Homo sapiens: one gene and its partner. The protein of the gene in region 2 purifies or fractionates together with the protein of the main gene of each other region. This does not show direct contact. Each region holds a gene or a part of one and is shown on either strand. Other genes may lie near its edges.

Evidence for each region.
Region 1: the proteins of TMEM184B (region 2) and BBS4 purify together in Homo sapiens (affinity purification with mass spectrometry; one large-scale study listed by BioGRID and IntAct). This does not show direct contact.

What each region holds. Positions count from the first base shown.
Region 1 is NC_000015.10:72,710,207-72,713,706, forward strand, and holds part of BBS4 (BBSome complex member BBS4), read left to right. Parts: intron 1-2,037; coding exon 2,038-2,101; intron 2,102-3,500.
Region 2 is NC_000022.11:38,228,011-38,231,510, forward strand, and holds part of TMEM184B (transmembrane protein 184B), read right to left. Parts: intron 3,406-3,500; exon of another isoform or gene 3,325-3,405; coding exon 3,234-3,324; intron 2,735-3,233; coding exon 2,659-2,734; intron 1-2,658. UniProt on the Homo sapiens protein: May activate the MAP kinase signaling pathway.

The sequences.
Region 1 (3,500 bases), on a different chromosome or scaffold from region 2:
TTTTTTTTTTTTTTGAGATGGAGTCTCACTGTCACCTAGGCTGGAGTGCAGTGGCATGATCTTGGCTCATTGCAGCCTTTGTCTCCCAGGTTCAAGCAATTCTTCTGCCTCAGCCTCCCCAGTAGATGGGACTACAGATGAGTGTCACCATGCCCAGCTAATTTTTTGTATTTTTAGTAGAGATGGGGTTTCACCATATTGGCCAGGCTGGTCTCGAACTCCTGACCTTGTGATCTGCCCGCCTTGGCCTCCCAAAGTGCTGGGATTACAGGCGTGAGCCACCGTGCCCAGCCCTGAGTTTTATTTTTTAATTTCTCTCTTACTGCAAGGTTGATCATCATGTGTATATTTAAAAACCATTTGTATTTCCCTTTCTCTGTATCTTTGGTGACATACCATATGTGTTACAAACTTGCAGGCAGACAGTGGTAGTACTAACATGCAGAATGTATCCTTGGTGTCATCTTTTTTGGTATCCAGAGCTTTGTGACCCATCTAAGGTTTTTAATTTATACCCATGGCATTTATACCTATGGCAATGCACAGAACTAATTCATACTGGTATGACAAAGATTCATACCAGTTTTTTTTTTTCTTTTTTTAAGTGGAGTTTTGCTCTTATTGCCCAGGCTAGAGTGCAGTGGCGCAATCTCGGCTCACTGCAACCCCCGCTTTCCAGTTTCAAGCAATTCTCCTGCCTCAGCCTCCCAAGTCGCTGGGATTACAGGTGCCCGCCACCATGCCCAGCTAATTTTTTTTTTTTTTTTTGTATTTCTAGTAGAGGTGGAGTTTCACCATGTTGGTCAGGCTGGTCTCAAACTGCTGACCTCGTAATCCACCTGCCTCAGCCTCCCAAAGTGCTGGGATTACAGGCGTGAGCCACCGCACCCGGCCCATACCAGTTTTTTTTGACACCGCTGATCCGAAGGCAGATACCAGTATGAATCTTTTTTTTTTTGAGATGGAGTTTTGCTCTTGTCGCCAAGGGTGGAGTGCAATGGCGTGACCTCGGCTCACCACAACCTCCGCCTCCTGGGTTCAAGCGATTGTCCTGCCTCAGCCTCCTGAGTAGCTGGGATTACAGGCATGTGCCACCACGCCTGGCTAATTTTTTGTGTTTTTAGTAGAGATGGGGTTTTTCCATGTTGGTCAGGCTGGTCTCAAACTCCCGACCTCAGGTGATCTGCCCGCTTCGGCCACCCAAAGTGCTGGGATTACATGCGTGAGCCACCGCGCCTGGCCACCAGTATGAATCTTGAAAGGTTCTCTTTCTTTTTCATCTGTGATAATACTTGGAAATCTTATCACACTTTTCTTAGCTTGCCTAGTTAGATTTTAGACAGGGGTTGGCAAACTTTTTCTGTAATGGGCCAACAATATTTTAGGGTTTGTAGGCCACATACAGTCTCTACATCATATTTGTTATCTTATTTTTTATAACCCTTTAGAAATAAAAAAACCACTGTTAGCTTGAGAGCTGTACAAAAATATACAGGGCCTGTAAGCCCTGTAGTTTGCAAATCCCTGTTCTAGAAGAAGTAATCACAACAAGGGAGTTGAAATTTTAAGAAACTGAATGAACTAATACTTTACTAGGCATTATTAATACTCTAGGTTTTTTTACATATGATTCTTGTCCACGTCTGCTTTTTCATTACTATTTGTTTTCTTTTTTTTTTCAGACAGAGTCTCACTCTGTTGCCCAGGCTGGAGTGCAGTGGCGCTATCTTGGCTCACTGCAACCTCCGCCTCCTGGGTTCAAGCGATTCTCCTTCCTCAGCCTCCTGAGTAGCTGGGATTACAGACACGCACCACTACTGCCCGGCTAATTTTTGTATTTTTAGTAGAGATGGGGTTTCACCATATTGGTTAGGCTGATCTTGAACTCCTGACCTCATAATCTGCCTGCCTTGGTCTCCCAAAGTTTTGGGATTACAAGCATGAGCCACCGCACCTGGCCTGTCCATGTCCACTTTTTCTTAAAGACACCTGAAGAAACTTAACCACTGCTCAGAAGCATTTTTCTCCCTCTTTCAGGCTGTTATCAAAGAACAGCTTCAAGAGACTCAGGGATTGTGTGAATATGCTATCTATGTCCAAGGTAAGACACATACTTCTTGTCTTCTTGCTAGAGAAATACACTTTTCCTAGGTTCTTGAAAAAGATCAGGCAATTGAAGAAACAAGTTCAAGTACAGTCATGCACCACTTAACAATGGAGATATGTTCTAAGAAATGTGTTGTTAGGCAATTTTGTCATTGTGTGAACATTACATGGAGTGTACTTACACAAACATAGATGGATGATATAGTGTACTATACACATGATATAGTCTGTTGCTCCCAGGCTACAAACCTGTATGAGCAGGTGTTATACCGAATACTGTAGGCAGTTGTAAAACAGTGGTAAGTGTATCTAAACATAGAAAAGGTACTGTAAAAATATGGTATAAAAGATAAAAAATAGTATACCTGTATAGAGTACTTACCATGGATGGACTGGAAGTTGCTCTGGGTGAGTTAGTGGTGAGTGAATGTGAAGGTCTAGGACATTATTGTATACTAATGTAGACTTTATGTTGTATACTAATGTAGACTTTATAAACACTGTACACTTAGCCTACACTAAATTTATTTAAAAATATTTTTTCTACAATGATAAATTAACTTTAGCTTACTATAACTTTTTACTTTATAAACTTTAAAACTTTTTGGCTCTTTTGGGGTAATACTTAAAACACACAACAACATTGTACATTTGTACAAAAATAGTTTCTTTAGGTCCTTATTCTATAAGCTTTTTTCTTTTTCTTTCTTTTTTTTTTTTGGTAGAGAGACAGAGTCTCACTTTGTTGCCCAGGCTGGTCTTGAACTCCTGGGCTCAAGCAGTTCTCCTGCCTCAGCCTCTCAAAGTGCTGGGATTATAGGCATGAGCTACGACACCTGGCCCTTTATGCTATTCTTAAAACTTTTTATTTTTTTACTTTTAAACTTTTTTGTTAAAAACTACGATACACACACTACTACAGTGGTGGTACTAACATGTGGAATGTGTCCTTGCTGTCTTTTTTGGCATTCAGAGCTTTGTGACCCATCTAAGGTCTTTGTGACACACACACACACACACACACACACACACACACACGCACACGCACGCACGCACTGGTCTAGGCCTACACTGAGTCAAGATTATAAATATCACTGTCTTCCACCTCCTTATGGAAGGTCTTCAGTGGCAATAACATACATGGAGCTGTCATCTCCTATAACAATAGGAATACCTTCTGGAATACCTCCTGAAGGATCTGCCTGAGGCAGTTATTCTTTTTTTTAGTAAGTGGAAGGAGTACACTCTAAAATAAAGATTAAAATGTATAGCGTAGTAAATACATAAACCAGTAATGTAGTCATTTATTATCAAGTATTAAGTTCTATATATATGTAATTGTATATGCTGTACTTCTATGTGACTGGCAGCACAGTAGGTTTGTTTATACCAGC
Region 2 (3,500 bases):
AGAGGACGAGGAGCCTGGAGTGGGAACCGTGATCCGTGAAACCTGCAGCTTCTGCCCCAACTGGGGATCTGAGTGGGTCTTGCAGGGGAGCCCCAGGCAGCCCACACCATGGGGCTGCCATACGGAGAGGCCCGCGTGATGGGGCAGACGTGCAGTCCCACTCTCAGAAAGCCCCACAGAACGTCCCTGGCCCTGTCATCCCGCCTAGAGAAGTGGGACTGGCACCTTCTGGGGAAAAGGGAAGAACGGCAGTTTGCATGAGTTCCAGTTATGAGCCTAGCAACAGGCTGGTGTTTCCCTGGGTCAGCTCACCTGGTACTCATGACAGCCCCCTGACGTGGGTGCTGTCATTATCCCCATGGTACAGGTGAGGAAACTGAGGCAGAGAGAAGCTGAAGCAGCAGCAGCAGCAGCAGCAGAGCCCAGGCCAGCAGGCCCCAGAATCATCACCTGACCATACCCTGGACCAGTCAGCAGTTCCCAGGCTGGGCTGGACATCAGAACCCCCAGGGAGCTTTAGACATGTGCCAGGTTCCAGGGCTCCATTCCAGAACTTCTCCTATGGGCTAGGGTAGTGGGTGGTTGATCTGGGAATCTCTACTTTAAGTAGGGAATCTCTCCAGAAGGTCTGGATATTGAGCACTGGCCCTGAGGAGTCAAAGGCCTGTCTCTGTGCCTCTAGGACAAAGCTGTGGGGTGTGCTCTCTCGCCCTGGTAAAGAAAGGAAGAGGCCTCTTTTGTTCTCTTTCTTCTTATATCTCTCCCTGCCACCGCCAGGAACAAGAACAGAACATCTGAGCCCACAGGGCTGGGGAATAATTTCTAACAAGGCCACACTAGCTAACAATCATGAAATCAAAATTTTGTAGACAATATAATCATCAAACAAGGCAGTGAGTCACAGCTGGCCGGAACCTGGGTGGCTGCACCAACTGGTAAACAATGGCTCTCAATGCCCCACCCTGAACCCAGGATAGTTTTAACTCTTTCCCTGCAGGTCCAGTGGTGAGATTCTGAATTTAGGAACATGCTAGGGAAGGAAGGTCTGGAAGCAGAACTGGAGACTTGGCATGTTCAGGTGGAGGCTTTGTGGGTGTGCCCGCCCTGTGGCCTGGGCCCTGCACAGAAGGGAGCAGCAGGCCCCGCCCTCCAGGGCCATCGTGACTTGGCTGTGGGTTTCATGTACTTTCGTGACTACTCTTGGCGAAGCTGGAGGGGCTGACATGACAGAGCCCCTACGGAGCCCCAGAGGAGACTAACGCAAGGTCATGAAGAGTGGGCGTGATCCCCTCAGACTCTGCCTCCCTGAACAGGAGGCCGTGGGCTCCACCACGCCGGGCTGAAAGCTCTACATCCATGACCTCATCTGATCCTCACAACCATCTCTAGAGAGGAGTATCATTACACTCATTTTACAGTGGAGGAAACTAAAGCTCAGAGAGGGTAAGCCAATTATCCAAGGTCACAGAGTCAGAGGAAAAGCTGGAAATCAGGCTCAGATGGTCAGACACCCAGGCCCACACACTGAGCGACCCCACCACACTGCCCCCACCCAGGCTACTCTAGACCACAGGGAGGTCAGCCCAGGAAGCTAGAGCAGCTGGATTGCCAAGGCTACTCTAGACCACAGGGAGGTCAGCCCAGGAAGCTAGAGTGGCTGGATTGCCAAGGCTACTCTAGACCACAGGGAGGCCAGCCCAGGAAGCTAGAGCGGCTGGATTGCCAAGGCTACTCTAGACCACAGGGAGGTCAGCCCAGGAAGCTAGAGCGGCTGGATTGCCAAGGCTACTCTAGACCACAGGGAGGTCAGCCCAGGAAGCTAGAGCGGCTGGATTGCCAAGGCTACTCTAGACCACAGGGAGGTCAGCCCAGGAAGCTAGAGCGGCTGGATTGCCAAGGCTACTCTAGACCACAGGGAGGCCAGCCCAGGAAGCTAGAGCGGCTGGATTGCCAAGGCTACTCTAGACCACAGGGAGGTCAGCCCAGGAAGCTAGAGCGGCTGGATTGCCAAGGCTACTCTAGACCACAGGGAGGCCAGCCCAGGAAGCTAGAGCGGCTGGATTGCCAAGGCTACTCTAGACCACAGGGAGGTCAGCCCAGGAAGCTAGAGCGGCTGGATTGCCAAGGCTACTCTAGACCACAGGGAGGCCAGCCCAGGAAGCTAGAGCGGCTGGACTGCCAAGGCTACTCTAGACCACAGGGAAGTCAGCCCAGGAAGCTAGAGCGGCTGGATTGCCAACCAGGAAATGCAGGGAGAGACGAAGAGACGGCAGAGGCCTGTTCTGGCGTGTGTCTTTAATGCCAAAACCCTCCTGCCCCCTAGCTGCAGCTGATGAGAAGTTTTCAAATGGAGGTTCTAGAATCCCCACGCACTTCTTCTGATTTTCACACACACTGAGACTTGGTCACACGAGCAAGAGTCTGGGATCAGCTCTTGCCCACAGTGCAACAGACACTCCCAGGATGTCGGTCGCTGCCCCTCCAAGCACACCCTGCTAATGTGGTATCTGCCTAACAGCTTCGGGGGGTGGGTGCTGGGGGCCTGGGGTGCCTCATAGGAAAGGGGACCTCTAAGGTGGGGCCCAGGGCAGCCCACGGCAGGGCCTCCCAGACCCCGCCCTGCTCCTCCTGAGCTAGGCAGCTGCTGGGGGCACACACCTGTTTGCAGAACCTCAGAAATCCGATGGAATAAGTCTTTCCCCAGAGGCAGCAGGTGCCATACATACAGCTGGACCTGGAAGAGACAAGCATAGCAGGCAGTGGCAGTGAGTGAAGAGCCAGGACTTGGGAACAGTGGGGTGGGGAAGGCCGCCCTCCCACCCATCCAGACGAGCTGGGGCACACATTCTGGGCAGACTTTGAACCCGAGGCCAAGCACAGGGAGAGGCATGGCAGGGCATCCGCACATGCCATAGGCGGAGGGACACAGGGCTGCACTGGCCCTGGGGTGACAAACCAACTTGGAGAGCTCTGAATGTAAAAACTGCAGGAGGCAGAAACAGACAGGAAAGCACTAAGACTGAGACAGGAAGAGACAGAGAGAGAAAGACTGAGCCGCAGAGGCCCTCCTAAAACGCCCAGAAGAATGGCGTTGCTCAGGAAATGTGGTGAGGCACAGCAGGTCAAGGTCACGGGCAGACATGGTCTGTGTCCAGCTGGTGCCAGGACGGCTCGAGGTACACCAGGCCCAGGAAACGGGGTGGTTTAGGGCTCTGGGAAGACTCCATACTCACTCAATGGGTTTTCCTCTGATCTCCGACATGATGGAACTTTCTCCTCCTAGGTACTCATAGCACAGGCTCAGGAAATTATAGATGACCAAGGCTGCGAAGAGAGTGTCCAGGAGAAACCAGTCAAATCAGCAGAATGGGTCCGCAGATGCTGGGATTCTAAACAGCAATGGAGGTGAAAGAGCCACAGCTGTGTGTGGCAACAGGGAGGAGGCTGGGGGACATAAGGTTGTGCAAAAGGAGCCCGTCAAGAACACAGACATCTGACCT